Homo sapiens: one gene and its partner. The protein of the gene in region 2 binds, or shares a complex with, the protein of the main gene of each other region. Each region holds a gene or a part of one and is shown on either strand. Other genes may lie near its edges. A codon is read from its position in the direction of its gene.

Evidence for each region.
Region 1: the proteins of TES (region 2) and ACTL7A are in contact, whole or in part, in a crystal structure (PDB 2XQN), measured with the Homo sapiens proteins. Residues at the interface, in NP_056456.1 of Homo sapiens: Asn311, Glu312, Tyr313, Thr314, Gln315, Ala316, Glu317, Leu323, Phe326, Leu335, Ala336, Gly337, Glu338, Ile339, Tyr340, Val341, Tyr353, Pro370, Glu371, Val372, Gln373, Arg374, Val375, Thr376, Tyr377, Ala384, Phe389, Leu398, Ile399, Gly400; in NP_006678.1 of Homo sapiens: Leu28 (codon at 2,499), Gln29 (codon at 2,496), Thr30 (codon at 2,493), Ala31 (codon at 2,490), Ser32 (codon at 2,487), Leu33 (codon at 2,484), Arg34 (codon at 2,481), Asp35 (codon at 2,478), Gly36 (codon at 2,475), Pro37 (codon at 2,472), Ala38 (codon at 2,469), Lys39 (codon at 2,466), Arg40 (codon at 2,463), Ala41 (codon at 2,460), Val42 (codon at 2,457), Trp43 (codon at 2,454), Val44 (codon at 2,451), Arg45 (codon at 2,448), His46 (codon at 2,445).

Annotation. Positions count from the first base shown.
Region 1 is NC_000009.12:108,856,974-108,864,902, reverse strand, and holds ACTL7A (actin-like protein 7A), read right to left. Parts: upstream 2,638-7,929; 5' UTR 2,581-2,637; coding exon 1,273-2,580; 3' UTR 1,147-1,272; downstream 1-1,146. UniProt on the Homo sapiens protein: Essential for normal spermatogenesis and male fertility. Required for normal sperm head morphology, acroplaxome formation, acrosome attachment, and acrosome granule stability.
Region 2 is NC_000007.14:116,205,463-116,214,364, forward strand, and holds the start of TES (testin), read left to right. Parts: upstream 1-5,076; 5' UTR 5,077-5,245; coding exon 5,246-5,272; intron 5,273-8,902. UniProt on the Homo sapiens protein: Scaffold protein that may play a role in cell adhesion, cell spreading and in the reorganization of the actin cytoskeleton. Plays a role in the regulation of cell proliferation. May act as a tumor suppressor. Inhibits tumor cell growth.

The DNA of each region.
Region 1 (7,929 bases), on a different chromosome or scaffold from region 2:
AATCAGCTGTGTGAGGTAGGCATTTATACTCAGTTTTGCAGGCAAGCAAACAAACTCAAGTCACAGTTAGGTGGTAGCAAAATTGCGTTTCAAACCACAGAGTCCAGAGCCCATGTTCTATCCTCTGTTTTGTGCACCAACTAGTGTTCAGATTTTGAACTTTAAAGACAAGACAGAGAATGTATTGGAGGCTGTTCTAAAGAATCTCCAATTTAAAGTGCTCATATTACAAACTCCCCCTGCAGGAACACCAGAGAGCTCGCTGGGCCCTGGAAGGGCTTCCCTGGCTACTGAGGGTCTCTGTGTATCTTTGGGCTCCCCAGTGGGGTTAGAATGACCCACATAGGGCAGCCTCCCACAGACCCATATCATCAGCCCCAGAACCAGCAGCCTCTATCCTCAGCACACCCCAGACTCCAACCGTGTGTGTTCTAGGCTGATGGAGAATCCAGTCTGCTGGGAGATGGTCAGCTACTACTTGAAGTGTCTAGAGAATGACTGTGGCCTCAATCCCTAACCTCTCTGCTGATAACCCAAGATCAGTCTTACTTCAGTTTTTAAAATGGGAAATCTGTATAGCACTTGTTCTCTGAAGAGTTGCCCTTTAAGGCACATACAAATGCCTTGCTTGTAATATGCTAGGCTTCAGCAGCCAGTCGCTGTGATGGCTTAGTAAGAACTGGTACTGAGACATAAATGACTGTTGGAACTAAAAGAAACTCCTGTTAAAGCAGGGCTCAGACAGCTTTGCCAGCTCTTTCCAGTCCCTCAGGGTTGTTGATGAAGTATGAAATGGACACTGATGCTTTGTGGGAGTTTGCACTGTTACAGCATACTTCCTATTGGCATTTATGGAAAGGGAACTGCTTATATGCCCCAACAGCATTTACCCTCTAATCTTCATTGCACTCCCCCTTCCAAGCAGAGTTTAACCGTAAAGTAGTTCCTAAAGCGGGGAATGCACAAAATAAGGGGCAGCATAATTTTAGAACAAGTGAATGTTTAAGCAATCCACATACAATGCATGCCCTTTTTTGTTCATCCTCCCCCTACTCCTGCTTTTGTTTTGGGAAATGTATATTTTAAGGCAGACGCTGCACGTGTGAAGTTGTTTCTTATGAAGTCAGGAAGTAGAGAAACACACTGTGGAGGGGCATATGAGGGGTGTTTAATGCTACAGGAATAAGCGCCGGCTCCACCCCCTGTGTGTAGGAGTGCGCTCACCCTGTCGAGGGTAGGCACTGCCAGTGCAGTGTCCATCCTCGTCGCTGTTCAGAAGCACCTTCTGTAGAGGAAGAAAGGCCCGTGTTCCTCGTACTCAAAGCGGTGGACCCACAATGGTTGGAAACCCTGAAGTGAGGCCAGGATGGAGCCACCGGTCCACACGGCACTGTCTCTTTCAGGCAGCACGTTTACCTGCGGGGTGTCATTGGGACACATGCTGCTTAGCTCCTTCTGCAGACGGTTAGGGAAGCCACTGAGCATCGTGCTGCCCCCGCAGAGCAGGATGTTCCCCATGAGGTCCCGTTTGAGGGCGATGTCACACTTGTTAAGGCAGGACACGGTTTGGGTGTGGAGGCCCAGCTGCATGGACTTGATGAGAGATGGCTTGAAGAACATCTCCGAGCAGAGGAACCGTTCCTGGCACAGCTGAATCTCCTTCCCATCCGGCAGCACGTAGCGGATCGTATGCTCACTGAGAGGGACTTTCTTCTCCTCAATGGGATCCAGGGCCACAAAGCAGCATTTCTTCTTGATGTCCTCCACGATGCCCATCTGGTCCTGGGTGAATTCGTTCCCCGCACTGTTCAGCAGGCCCAGCAGGTAGGCTGTCAGGTCAGAGCCCGCGTAGTCCAGCCTTCCGGTGATGCTGGGCAAAGGATAACCCTCGTAGATGGGGACCACGTAGGACACGCCATGGCCCACCTCCACCACCAGGCCGGAGGTCCTTCCATAGGAGTACATGGACAGGCGCGACTGGTAGGCGATGTGCATTGCAGGGGTGTTGAAGGCTTCAAACAGCATTTCAGCATATTTCTCTCTGTTGGTGTGTGGGCTCAGTGGCGGGTCTGAAACCAAGACCGCATGCTCCTCCGGGGCGATCTTCATCTCTTGTCGGAAGAGATATTCCCAGATATCCTGCACTGTATCCCAGTCCACGATGATGCCATGTCGCAGAGGGTTAACCAGCTTGAGATGAACGTTTGTGTTGTTGAGTTCCTGCCCCACGAATGTCTCCTTGCGATTATCCCCAGTCTTGGCGGTCTCCATGTAGGGCTTGCCCACCGTTGTTGAGATCTTGTGGGTGGGTCTTGGCAGGCCGGCAAAGCCACATTTACAGTAGCCAGTGCCCAGGTCCACGACCACTGCTTTGGTCACCTCCTGCTTGGGCCTCTCCTTGGCTGCCTTTGATTCAGTAGGTTCTTGTGGCTCTGAACTCGTATGGCGGACCCACACGGCCCGCTTCGCCGGGCCATCCCTTAAAGAGGCAGTCTGGAGGGCCTGTGTCTGCAGGGGGGCCTGGTTGCCCACCTTCTTGGTGGGCCCATCCCCCATGATTGCTGCTGGTGGAGCCCACATGTTGTCAAGAGCCGCACCACTCTTAGAAAGTTCTCAATCCCACTGGATTCAAGGCCTGAAAGGCCTACATCAGAGGATACCCTGAGAATTTTCCCAACAGTGACATCACTAATTATGATGTAATCTGGTGACCTGGGCTTTCTAGATATTGCAAACCCTTATCCTGTGTTAGGGTACATTTGGGATATTGTTTTTGAAATGGCTCCCCTTTTCCTAAATTTCGTAACAAGACTGATTTATTCAATTAATTAATATTTCTTGAATGTCTGCTATATACAAGGCAGCTGGGAATTCGCTGGTGAAAAAAACAGACAAAATCCCTTATTCTAGTCGGTGGCGGGTGGGGGTGACAGACAATAACCAAAATGAGCGTTAAGAGCAAAAGCAGGGTGGCAGTGCTAGTGTGGCCTGGGCAGGGCTTCCTGAGAGGGTGACATTTGAATGAAGACCTGCAGGAGGTGAGGGAGAGAGCCATGTGTATGTCAGGGGAGCAGCAGGTGCAGAGGACTGGAGGCAGATGTGTGACTGAAGAGTTAGATCAGGGGTCAGCAGGCTGCAGTCCAATCCGGTCCCCGGCTTGTTGGATAGGAATACAGCCGTGCTCATTCATGTACGTATTGTCCGTGACTGCCATTGCAGTACAACAGTAGAGCTGAGTCACAGCATTGAAGACTGCATTGCCCAAAAAGCTGAAAGAAAGTAAATACTGACTGACCCTTAAAAAGTTTGCCGACCTCTCGAGTTAAAGGAGGAGCAGGAAGAAAAGTGTGGCTGGCATAGAAGGAGTAAGGAAAAGTAGATGAGATGGGGTGGGGGAAGGCAAGCAGCTCATGGTAGGCCTCATAGGCCAATGCAAGGATCGTGGGTAAGGTCAGAAAGCACTAGAGGATTTGGCACAGAGCACTGACACCATCTGATTTAGATGTTAGTGGGAATCCTTTGCTGCTATGGTGACTAAGGGCACTAAGGGTGACCCTTAGAACAACCTTAAGGGGAATTATTTTTGGATATACATGTGTACACTTACTGTGCCTTCATCAGGGTCATTGGCTAGACAGTGAAATTAGACTCTACAAAATCCCACTGACAACACTGAGGCTTTTAGGTGCATAGCTCACCCAAGGATATCCAACCAGGAGTAGCCAAGCTCTCCTGACTGTGGCTTCCTCCCCAGGATGTGCTGGGACACAGCTTGATGGGACCTAGCGTGCAACTCTTAGGCTGTTTGGCCACCATCTTGCATGCCATTTCTGAAGCTGGACACATTGGTGTGGATGCCTGCCACACTCAGGGCAGAATCCAACCTTATGTTATGCCACACCCTGAACCTGATCCCAGCCCTTCATAAAAGAGGCAGTCACCACAATAATGGGCTTTCTCCTTTAGAGAGGCTACGGGAGTTGCTCTCAGTTCCTTGTTGGGTATGAGAGAAGAAAAGGACCAAGTCCAGTCTCATGAGGTTTGTGGTGACTATCTGATGGGGGCAGCAAGGTGTCATCCCAAGGACAAAATCTCAGTTTCTTGCTTCATTGGTTAGTGGGTGAGATAATAGCATGGAATTTTAAAGGAAAAATAGGAAAGTACTTTTGATGCCTGGCTGCCTGAAAAACAGTTTAATTGCCTCTGCCGTTCAGGGATTTGCGTGGGCAACTCAGATTGTTTGACTTTATTTCAAAAGTGCTGTATATGGTAACCAAAGGCATATGTAATTTAAAACCCTCCATTTTTTTCTTCCCAAACCCTACTTGAATGTTGCGAAATCTATAGCTGCTTGGTGCCTTTTCACTAACCTGGACTCCTAGAAGAGCCTGTATTAGCTTCCTGTTTCTGCTGTAACAAATTACCATGGATTTAGTGGCTTAAAGCAATTCACAGTTATTATCTTACTATTTTGGAGGTCAGAAGTTCGTAATTCTTCTTAGTGGGCTACAATTAAGGTTCTTTCAGGGCTGTATTCCTTCTGGAGGTGTAGGAGACAATACTTCCTCTTGCCTCCAGCTCCTAGAGGCCACCTGTGTTCCTTGGCTCATAGTCCCTTCCTCCATCTTGGAAGACTCTCAGACTAGAGCTGTCATTGTCACATCTGCTTCTCTGCCCTTGACCCTCCTGTATCCCCCATATAAGGACCCTTGTGATTACATTGGCCCCACCCAGGCCATACAGGATACTCTCCCCATCTCAGATTCCTTCATTTAATCACATCCACAGAATCCCTTTTGGCATGAAAGTTAATATAGTCACAGGTCCCAGGGATTAAGATGTGGACACCTTTGGAGGACCCTTTCACCTGTTCAGTGCCTCCCTCTTTGCTAATACACTCCAAGCCTGACATGCTCTGACTCATTTGCTCTTCGTGGGCTGCCCAGGCTTGCCCATCTGTCATCTGTCATCACACTTTCTGCATTTGTGTGTGGAAGAGGTGATGCTTTAGTGTAAGGCAGTCACTCTATCTAGTCTGTAAGGTCCTTGAGCATAGGGATTCCCCTCACATTCTCTGAGCAAAAGCCAATGAAACACTTGCCCTCCTTTTACTTCACCACTGAGTTTCACATGTTGGGTGCTCCTAATAAAAACCCTGTTTCCCCTAAGCTTCCTGTTACCCTCTGTGCCTCTTCTCTCCCTCTATGGGTCATCACACGGTTAGTGGTAATGATGGAAGAATGCAGAGACTGTGGACACCGTGCCCCAAACCTCCACTGCCTAGCACACACACCCCCCATAATTGTCACCAGCTAAGGTCTGTGTGGGCCCTCTGGGGTCCCTAGTGAGGTCCCTCTTGGGAGAGGCACCCTATAGTGCTCAAAATATATTGGGCCACATTTTCTAATGGGATCACACCTACTTTTAGCCCTCTGGCTCAAGACCAAAAAAACCATGGGATGACCCCTTTTCAAATGCAACCCTGGGATCCTCTTCTATAGTGGAGGGAGAGAACATGGAAAGGTGAGATTAAAGAACACACTTCTGCCTGAGGTGCATCCTGGCTCCTGGCTTCAGTTTTGGGACACTGCCCACCCTTGACCTTTGGAGGAGAGGTGAGCCAGGCCTCTGGAATTTTAGCAGCAATGGGAGGGAAAAAAAGAAAATCCAGCATGGCATTTCTTCTCATGAATCACCTGGAGTTTTTCTTAAAAATTACTGGAGCCCACCACAGCCTTTCCAACTCTTGAATATGCTGGAGAACCCCTGAGTCAGGAGCTCCCAACAAAGAAGATCCTTGCCAAACAGGCACTTTGAGCTGCTTTCTCACAGCTCAGATCCCAGTGTGGACACCCAGGTCCCAAGACTGTGTCCATTTCCCCGAGGTGGAAGGGAGAGGAGCTGTCTTCAGGGGCAGATGTGCTACTGAGCATGCAAATGTGGATCCGGATGCTTCCCTTTCCATGTGCTCCAGCCCAGTGTCCCACAGCCTAGTGACCTTTGGGCATCTCTAAGTCAGCAGACCCCAAATGTGAGTGTGTGTGTGTGTGTGTGTGTGTGTGTGTGTATGTGTGTGTGTCACCATCATCCACTTAGCAGCTCAAGGCAGAGACCTGGAGGCTGTGGGTAGGGGTCAAGTTGACGAGGGGACATAGCAAAATGGTAATCACATTCAAACAACATTTCAAGTAGTTTACCCAAAGTCATACAGATTATAAATAATAAGTCTATGTTTGAACCCAGGTCTTCGGAATCCAGTTCCTCAGTCTTCCATCTGCTCTGTACTGCCTTTCTGTAAGGAATGGATAAAAAGTAGGCTCTGGCAGTCCATGAATACTGCCTTTAAATAGCCTAAGAGTTGTCGTGGAAGAATTTGCTTGCCCCGTAGAACTTCAAGAGTAGACCCAAGACCATTTAATGGCTTCAGAGAGGTACACATGCCAATCCAGTGTGACGAAACGTTTATCACTCATGGCTGGCCAAAATAGGGTGAGCTGTCCATGTCAGACTACTGGATGGAATGTTCTAGAAGGAACTGAAGGGTCCAATCCTCAGCTTCTGTGATTTCATGATCCCACCACAGGGCATTTCTGGGTCATGATGTTCATAATTATAACCCTTAGAAAGTTGTTACCCAAATAATATAGTTGAATGCTGCCATGTTCCAAGAAACAATTCAGCGGGCTGGGCATGGTGGCTCACACCTGTAATCCCAGCACTTTGGGAGGCCAAGGCGGGCGGATCACGAGATCAGGAGTTCAATGTCAGCCTGGCCAACATGGTGAAACCCCGTCTCTACCAAAAATACAAAAATTAGCCAGGCGTGGTAGCAGGTGCCTGTAATCCCAGCTACTGGGGAGGCTGAGGCAGGAGAATCGCTTGAAACTGGAAGGCGGAGGTTGCAGTGAGCTGAGATCGCGCCACTGCACTCCAGACTGGGCGAAAGAGCGAAACTCTGTCTCAGAAACAAACAAACAAACAAAAATTTGGCAAACAAAAATCCCCACACATTCCTCATTAGCATTCTTACATGCTCCATGGCAGTATTTCTTAACTCTTTTTCCCCCATGCATGTTGCCTAATCAATTCCTCAGGCACCTCTGCTCATCTTAATTCTCCCAGAAAACTTCCTCAGGCCCAGTTGCCGCTCTTCCCCTTTTTCTGTTGACTCTTCACCACCAAAGCCCTAAACTGCCTTTTTGATTTTTGGAGTGGGAGGGGGCAGCTTAAGTTGCAGGTCCCTCTGGCACTCTCGTGAATTTGTCCTTTCTGGATGACAGGCCATCTTTCTTTGCCCGGGTACAAGTAAGCGATTCATCCTTCCCTCTGCCTCACATCCCACATCACAGGAGCCCATGAGGGAAGCCCTGAAATGTCAGAGTAAGAGCTTGGATTAAAGTGAGGGATGGTTGGGGAAAAAACAGATTGGATTCTATTCTACTTTCTAAGTTTCTCTAGAACTAGGCTCTTCCTTGTTTCCACACTCTCACAGCCCTAGGTCAGGCCACCTTCAAGTCTTATCAGAAGTTCTCCAATGGCCTCGTTTCGGGTCTCAGTTTCTAGTCTTGCCCCTCCCATCCATTCTCTACATTACAGCCCAATGCAGATCTTTCTAACATTTTTATTTTTCTTTTCTTTTTTTTTGAGATGGAGTCTCACTCTGTCTCCCAGGCTGGAGTGCAGTGGTGCGATCTCAGCTCACTGCAACCTTTGCCTCCCAGGTTGAAGCAATTCTCTGCCTCAGCCCCCCAAGTAGCTGGGATTACAGGCACCCGCCACCATGCCCAGCTAATTTTTGTATTTTTAGTAGAGATGGGGTTTCACCATCTTGGCCAGGCTGGTCTTGAACTCCTGACCTCATGATCCACCTGCCTCAGCCTCCCAAAGTGCTGGTGGGATTACAGGCATGAGCCACCACGCCCGGCCCTT
Region 2 (8,902 bases):
AATAATAGCTGTGTCAGGCTCACAAAGGAGTTCCTATGACAGGTGTTAATAAATGATTAACATCTCTAAAGAGGCCTCCTGGGACCACATTAATAATTGATGAGACAGGTGTATCATTTTCATCTTGAAATGTTTACCTCATCTAGTATAGAAAAGTTTTCAATAATTATTTTCCCTGGCATATGTAGTGTTTACTCCGTATGTGTATTTATGTGTGTATATGTATATATGTTTATGTATGTGTACTTGTGTATGTAGCATCATCTGTATCTTCAGCCCTGATGTTTCTTTTGTCCACCAGACTCATATCCTATTGGCCTTGCCAAATCAATACACACAAAACAAAACCCATTATCTTTCTCAATCAAATTTTCTTCTCCACTTTTGTTTCCTGCCTTAAGGTGTGTGTTATATCCACCAAACTGGTCACCCAAAATAGATTCCTAAGAGATAGAAAATAGAATCCTAATGGATTCCTTATCCTCTCTCTTTTCAAGAATCAGTCAAGTCCAATATTTTCTACCTGTTTAATATCATTGATAAATCCTTCTAACTCTCCACAGTCATTGCTACTGCTTTACTTTGGCCCTCATCATATTTCTTGTGGGCTATAGCTAGAATCTCCTGATTAATCTTCCATTCTTTAGACTTGTCCTATTCATTATCTACCCCCATTCCTAGCAATAAAATAAACATCTACAACTTTTTGCCCAAGTGGGGTTTCTGTAATTTAAATAGTTTTTGAAATGTTCAGAAACATTGAGTACACCAGAACACACAGAGGGGAACAATAGACAATGGTACCTACTTGAGGGTAGAGGGTGGGAGGAGGGTGAGGTTCAAAAAGGTACCAGTTGTGTACTATGCTCACTACCTGGCTGATGAAATCATTTGTAAACCAAACCCCAGCAACATGCAATTTAATCATGTAACAAACCTGCAGATGTACTCCCAAACCTATAATAAAAGTCAAGGGAAAAAGTTCTCCAATATCGACAGAAAGAAAAATCTTCTGCTTGTACTTACTAAGCCTCTTCCTTTGCTAATTTCCTTGTAACATCTGAAACAGAGATAGATATCTTTGGAGGCATTTGGAAAACTCTTATTACTCCCTCTCTGTGAGATTTGTCCTACCTATAAGTTTGGGCTTTAGTCTATGTGTTGTCCTTTGTGTCTCTCAACTGGCACCAGCTTCAGCTAATTGAATCAGAAGTTTAAGCTTATCCAAGCTGGGCTATTTAAAGTCTTTTTGTTAGAGGGGTTGAAATCCCAAACTGGGTATTTTGCTTGAACTAGGGTGATGTCAATTAACGAGCTGAGACTGCCTTTATTGGTTGCCCATGTGTGCAGGAAAACAGAGTCTTCAAAGAGAAAGAACTAAAGCTGATGGAGGCCAAGCAGCAAGATGAGAGACCACATAACCCCAGTGAAGGAGTAGATTCCTTGTTCCAGATGTTGGCAAGTGCCTGGTCTAGTCGCAGATGCATCTGGCCCTTGAGTTTTGCAACAAGCCTCTGTATCCTTAAAATAAAATGCCATCTTTTTAAAAGTAAACTAGCTCGAGGGTTACTATTACTTGTGATATGGTTTGTATATTTGTCCCCACCCAAATCTCATGTTGAATTGTAATCCGTAATGCTGGAGGTAGGGCCCAATGGGAGGTGTTTGGATCATGAGTGGCTTGGGCCATCCCTTTGGCAATAAATGAGCATTCTCTCTGAGTTCACAGGGGAGCTGGTCATTTAAAATTGTGTGGCACACCTCATCCTCCCCCACCAACACATTCTGTCTCTCTTGCTCCTGCTTTTACCATGTGAAGTGCTTTCTCCCACTTTGCCTTCTGCCATGATTGTAAGCTTCCTGAGGCCTCCCCAGAAGCCAATGCAGAAGGTATGCTTCCTGTACAGCCTGTAGAACTGTGAGCTAATTAAACCTCTTTTCTTTATAAATTACCCAGTCTCAGGTATTTCTTTATAGTAGTGCAAGAACGGCCTAATATAACTTGCAATCAAGAGTTTTAACTAAGACACTTATTCATCTTCCAAGACTAAGCCAAGGTTACTCTTTTCTAAAGATTTTACAAATCCCAATACCACCTTCTCCCTGACTCTCACGTGTGCTTCCCTCTACCTGTAACATTTCATTACTCTTACACACCTGCTACTCCCATACTAATCTGTAAACTGCTTAAGAACAAAGGGAATGTCTTATGTATTTTTACATCTCTCCAGTGATGAAGGGTACATAAAAGTTTAACACATTTCCCTCATCGGATATTGTAATTTGATAGCATAGAAACTGAATTTAACCTGAATAAATATTTTGTTTGGCCTATACAGAGAACTTCAGTCTCTCTCTCTCTCTCTCCTCTGTCTCTGTCTCTGTCTGTCTCTCTCTCTCTGTGTGTGCCTGCACACATGTGTAAAATCTAGTATTTTCATTTACTTCTCTAAAGATAAAGATCTTAAGACCATTCCTTAGTATTATCCAGTATAGTATATTGATTTCCTCTCTACTTGATTGAAACAGCAGAGTTGGGCATTTATTTGGCTGATGTGTCCATAAGTTTTGTGGAAAAGTCAAGTCCAACATTGACTAAAGCACTCTGGTAGAAACAAAGGGAGATAAAATTATAAAGTAATATCTTTCCCCACAACTGCACCAAAAATGCACTTTCCAAAGTCACCAATGATCTCCTTTTTGTTAAATCCGAAGGGCATTTGACCCTTTTCTACAATTTGACATTGTTAACTAATTTCTTCTTCAATTTCCTTTCTTGCTTTTAGGGATTTGACTCCTAATTTTTTTCTTACCCTTAATCTAGCCCTTATCTCTTTTATGTGTTTCTCTTGCTCAGCCTTGCTCACTTGGTGTCTTTGATATTCTTCTCTTTTATTTTACTGTCTCCGAGGCTCATCTCACTTCTTGGCCTTTAATTATTTATTTATGTAGGATGTGAACTCCTAAATCAGCATTCAAGATGTATATTTGGATACTCATTTCAATGTCTCAGTCTCAAACTCAATATATTAAAAGTTGTATCCTTTATGTCCACCACCAGCCCCAAAGAATGCACAACTGAACAAAACCCTGACCATCATCCTATATTTTCTCTCTTTCTGAGCTATCCATAGAGGTGATCAAGATAGAAATGTGTGCCATCTTCTATTCATTCCACTGTCATCAACTACATGTACTCATCAAACCATGCCAGTTCTACCTCCTTAATAACTGTAGCTTAACACCTGAATAACTGAACAAAAACTTACAATTTAACTCTCTTAACACTTATCTACCTCAATTTTATTTTTATAATTTATACATAATCTATAATTATTTTTATATAATTGGCACAGTGATAATTCCAGATAAAACTCACTGAATTTCTATTTCCATCCTTGCCAATGATACACACACACAATGTAATGCTGAGAGGGTTGGGAAGGAAGAATGGGAGAAAGGCAGAAGTTGACAGTTAAAAAAAAAAAGTTTCCAGATGGTTTTCTTAGTGTCATCTCTGCAACCTCATCAAATAAGGGTCCAAAATTTATGTTACAACATTTGTTTGATGCCTTATTTAAATTGCTTTACTGGACATTTTCCATCTGTTAAGCTCTCTGAAAGAAACAAAATTGCCTTGTCATAGCTAGACCTCATGATCCTATACACTTACAACGGGCAGACTTTGCAGGGGCCCACACCTTTCAAGGTGGTTTGGGAAAATGACACAGAAAAGTTTTACATCAGCTGAAAAGAAAAATGCATAACTCATTTTGGTAATTTCAGTTTTAATTCTTAATAGGATAAAGGAAACATGCACATTATAAATCAATGCTCTGTGTTAACAAATAATCAAGTAAGCAGAGTTGCAAGTATTGGCTAAAATGAATTTTGGATATTTTTAGCTACCAAATTTCTCGAGGCAAGGCAGACATACATCTGGACCTGAATATCTGCATTATTAGGGAATTTTTGTTTGTTTGTTTTATATTGTTTTGTTATTTTTAAAAGTAGGTGCCAAATTAGGTCACCTGCTGTCTGGGCAATGTTATTTTTTGCCATAACCACAAATTGAAGAAAATTGACTGCTCTTTTTCCTTAGTCAACATGCTGTGCTTCCAGCCCCAAACATCTTTGAGAAGTTGTTTAGATTCATGAGCAATGCCTCTGTCCCCAACAGGCTAAGACATTAGGCAGGTCCCTGCACCTCTGGAGTCCTCAGTTCCCTGCAAAGTGAGGAAGCTAGACTAAGTAATCGTTAGGCTCCCTTCCAGACCGACCAATCTGATGGTATTAGATGCAATTGCTCCTGAATTAGGGCATGAAATGAATTCAGCTTTGGTGCACCAATGTGATGACTCTGCTTCATCAAAGCCTGAGCACGCGATAGGCCTAGCACCATCTCACACAGAGACAAAGGGCAACCCTCTGCTTCCAAAGGAATGACACAACCTGTTTCTGAAGTGATTCACATCATCTTTACTTTTGAACAACCCAATGCTCAGAAAACAATCTAAGAATCTTCGCTGACTTTAGGGATGTAAGATACGGTTTCTTGACAGTATTTGGGATTGTGGAAAAAAGCAATTGAGGAAAGGGCATCTCCACAACGCAATATTGAATTTAGTGCCCAAGGTCCATCACAGGAATCCCTAACGATCCCTACAATCTCTCTCTCTCTCTTTTTTTTCTCTCTTTACCCTGAAAATAAACTGAGAAGTTAGTATTGGGATAACTATTCCCCTTGACCCAAATAAAAAGTCCTGGGCAAACACAGGTACAAATTGCCAAATGGAAAAAGTTCTTCTCCATCTTCAGCTAGAGGGAGGCTGGGGATCCCAGCTCTTTAGAAGCCGGCCCGTGGACGCCCAGAGAATCCCTTCGGAGACCAGGTCAGGGTCACTGAGCTTGCCCAGCAGGGCGCCGCCTCGGACGCCGCCCCGCCTCTCACCTTGCCAGCGCCGCGCTCGGGCCGCGAAGGTGCGTGCGGCGCTCGGTGATTGGCGGCGGCCCGGAGCTGCCCGGCTGCCATTGGCTGCCCGGCCCCCTTTGTTCCCGGGTCCGGGCCGCAGGCCCGCTGCGGCGGACTGGGCGGCGGAAGTTCGACGGCGCCGGGCGAGTGGCTGTTGAGCGGCGCCGCGGGAGTTCCGCAGGTTTCCCGTGTTCGCAGCGGAGCCGGAGGCCAGCTGAACCCGGCCGTGGGATCCCGGATAGGAGGAGGAGGGGACCCATAGGACGCGTTAACATGGACCTGGAAAACAAAGTGAAGAAGGTAGGGGGGCGCTCGTGGCGGGCGGCGGCTGCTTCACCTGCGCGGGTCGCGCGGCGCGCGGCGGCCGGAGGTGCCGAGGTGGGTGGGGCTCGCGGGCCCCCCGGTGTGAGCCCGGCTCTGGGTCTGCGGTGCCCCGGGCCCAGGGACCTGGCCCCCTGGGTAGAGGAGGTGCTCGGCGGCCCCGCCAGCTCCCCACACTCGGGAGCGACAGAATTGGAAGCGCGAGCGAGGGCGGGCGCGGGACTCTTCTCTCCAGTCTCACGGAATCCCAGTGGTTGTAGGTGTTGGAAACTTTACTTAAGATGTTTCAGCTCTGCCTGTGCCTCCTCAAAAGGAAAGGACGAGCTTAGGGCGAGTGCGGGCGAGACCGTGACACTTCCTGGCTCAGGAAGTTGAATTTCATTAAGCCTTTGTGGTTTGGGGCTCTGCTGTGCTTTGACAGCTCTGATCTCCTCCCTTCCGGCTGGGCTGTCTGGGGCGCTCTAAAATGAGTGTTGATTTAATGCACTGCCTTCGCACCCGTGCTGGTGATAACTTCTAATGTGATTTTTTTTTCGGTCATTCATTACTTGTCTACCGACCGAGGCAGTGCCTCCCTCTTAGGGAATTATCTGTCAAAGAGCGCATTCTCCTTGTTTGGCAGGTAGTCCCAAAGGGCGGTTGTCACCAGCGTCTCAGCGCAGGGAGACATTTTCAGCTTGGCTGCTGCCTCGCAGGCACTGGAACCGACGGCCCTACCTGAGCCACTCCCGGGTTATGCGGAGCCTGGTGTCGCCTGGGAGAAAAGGGTGGGGACCAGACTATGACTCAGAAGGAATGCTGATGTCACATTCGAGTGAATTGCCCTGTGCGAAAGTTCTCCTCGTTCCAGGGGATTTGCTCATGTTTTACTTTGTGGTAAATTTAAGCTAGCTGTCCCTTATCAAATAGAGAAGTTTTGCAGAGAGAGGAAGGGAAAAATACAGAAAACAGTTTTTGTTTTTCTCATACTCATGGTTCCTAATATTTTATCTTCTAAACACAAAGTTTTTGACTTGAGCATTAATTCTATTTTATGCCCAGAACTGGATTTTTGAAAATGGATACAAAATATTGTGTTAGGACTGCAGAGTTTTCGGTTAGGAAGCTATTGACCAATAAAAACTCGAAATGAGAAAACAGTTTTTTTCATTCCTTGCGACTAAAATTCTCAGGCACTCAAAAAGGTATCCAAGAACAGAAAAACATAAATTGTTAATGGTAGCGTGATTGCATTCTATTCTCTTCCCATTTGGTTTCTTTCTTTTTTTCTTTTAAATAACTGTAATATTTTTGGTTAATCTTGCTTGTCATGGGGGAAAAGCGGGGAAAGCATTTTGCCCGCTTAGCTTTCTGTTGATGAATACTACTCTCATTTAGTTTTCAAGTAGGTAAGAGCTACTTAATTTAGTACTTGTCTAAAACTTGGGGGGTCTTGTCCTTGCTTTTAAGTATTTATTTGAAGACAACTTTGCAAAAGTAAACATATTTTGGGCTGCCGAGGATGAACAGGTGAAGCACAGGATTTTTAGGGTAATGACACTATTCTGTATGATACTATAAAATGGCTGATACATGTAATTATACATTAATCAAAATCCATAGAATGTAGAACACCAAGAGTAAACCCTAATGTAAACTATGTATGTTGGGGATAATGATGTGTCAATGTGTTTCATCACTTGTAACAAATGTACTGCACTGATACGGGTTGTTGGTAGTCCGGGAGGCTGCTGGAGACAGGAAGGCATGGGGGAGGTACATGGGAACTTCGAATTTTCTGCTCAATTTTGCTGTGAAGCTAAAAAATGCTTTAAAAATAAAGTCTGTTTAATAGGGGGAGAAAAATCAAAGACATTTTTGAAACTTTTTGAGACAAGGAGTAATTCTGAGGGAAGAAGTTCAAACTTAAAAATTGTATATGCTTGCAAAGGAAAAATCCAGACGTTGTTTATAAACAATTTCCTTAGAGTTTGAAAATGTGGATTATGATAAATAATGCCCTTGACATATGGTGTAATTTTCCTCGTTTATCCCCCACTTTACTTTTAAAAGTTATATTTTCAACCAAGAATCTTAACTTTCTCTAATCCTCCTCTTCTCCGCCTCTACCACCCCAGAAAGAATTCCATAAATTAAAGGTTTTAGAGAGAATCCCATGATATAACAAATCCCTGTTTCACTACGTTGTCTTCACTGATGATTCTTAGAATCCTCAACTGGTAAATTGGAAGCTATTAAAAAACCGCAGAGATGTCCCGTATGACTCCAATTTGTGAGTCCCTTAATAGGCTTGATAGTCTAACAAAAAGTTTCCCAGTACAAAATTTGGAAATCTCAGGAATGTATTTCACAATCTTAGCCATACTCTCAAAAAGAAATTTATGTTCCTTTTAGCAATTGTTTTCTAACACGTCCAAAGAAGGAAATATTACAAGACTATCTGATTTACCAGCAGAGTCCTCACCCTATTTTGGTACCTAGTTTTCAAGTCTCCTTTCTTTTTGACTCAGTTATTCAAGAAAATTTATAGTTTGAATGTACCTTGAGAAAAGGAAGATTAAAAGTTGGAACAAAGATACAACCATTTAAATACAACTAATATGACTTCTGTTTTAAGATGTATGACATTTTTTCCTTCTAAAACTTTTACATTGTTGATTTCATGAGGAATTTCTTCCAGACAGATGAAAAGCATCATTGTTCCACATTAACATTTCATGTAAAAAGAATTAAGGAGGACTGTCTTTATTAAACAGTGATTGAGATAGATGATACTATTATAAAATTCTTGGTTTGTAAAAGGAAAGCTCGTCCACATCAGTTGTACAAATTGGGATTAATTACCAGTTAAAACCCACCATCACAAAGACAAGGGGTTTTTATAATTAGATTTTGCTATATTTTGTTTTGTTTGAAGAAAGCGAGCTGTTGCTAGGATGTGGGAGCTAGTTTGGTTATACAAAGTTTTTGTTTTAATAATACTTTAGAACAGAATTGATTCTATGTCCTTGCCCTGTCTTCTGAGTTACACATCTAGACCTCTTTCTTATTTTTTAAGTCTCATCTTAATTGGCTTTGTGTCAGTATGGTCCATGTCTGCTTGGGAAAAACAGTGGACTTTGAGAAGCAGAAACAGTCTCATTTTGCGGTGAATGGTAAATCATGGCCAACAGCCAGCTGTTTTCCTCTTTCCTTTCTGTGTTACTCTCCCATGAGAAATATTTTTTTTCAATTAAGAACATACCAACAGAGAAAGAGAACTACAATAATTTCCCTTTTACTGCCTGGAATTGCTGCAGGGCTTTTTCATTTTACCGTGTTCATTTTTTCTCTCCTCTAACCCCTTTATTTTGATTAATCCTAATATTTTGCATACTTTTCTTAAGACTCTTATTTCTTTAATTTTACTTTTTAAAAATATGATGCATTTTAAAGATTACATGTTACTAAAAATCCCCTTTCTCTGTATCCAAACTTGTTTTCAAAACCTTTGTCATTAGCCAAAAAAGCATAGTGAAACCAAATGAATACTATTGGAAAAAGGACTAAACTACAAAGATTATTTCCATTGGAAATTAGAATGAGTTATTTGCCTTAGGTAGCCCCTGG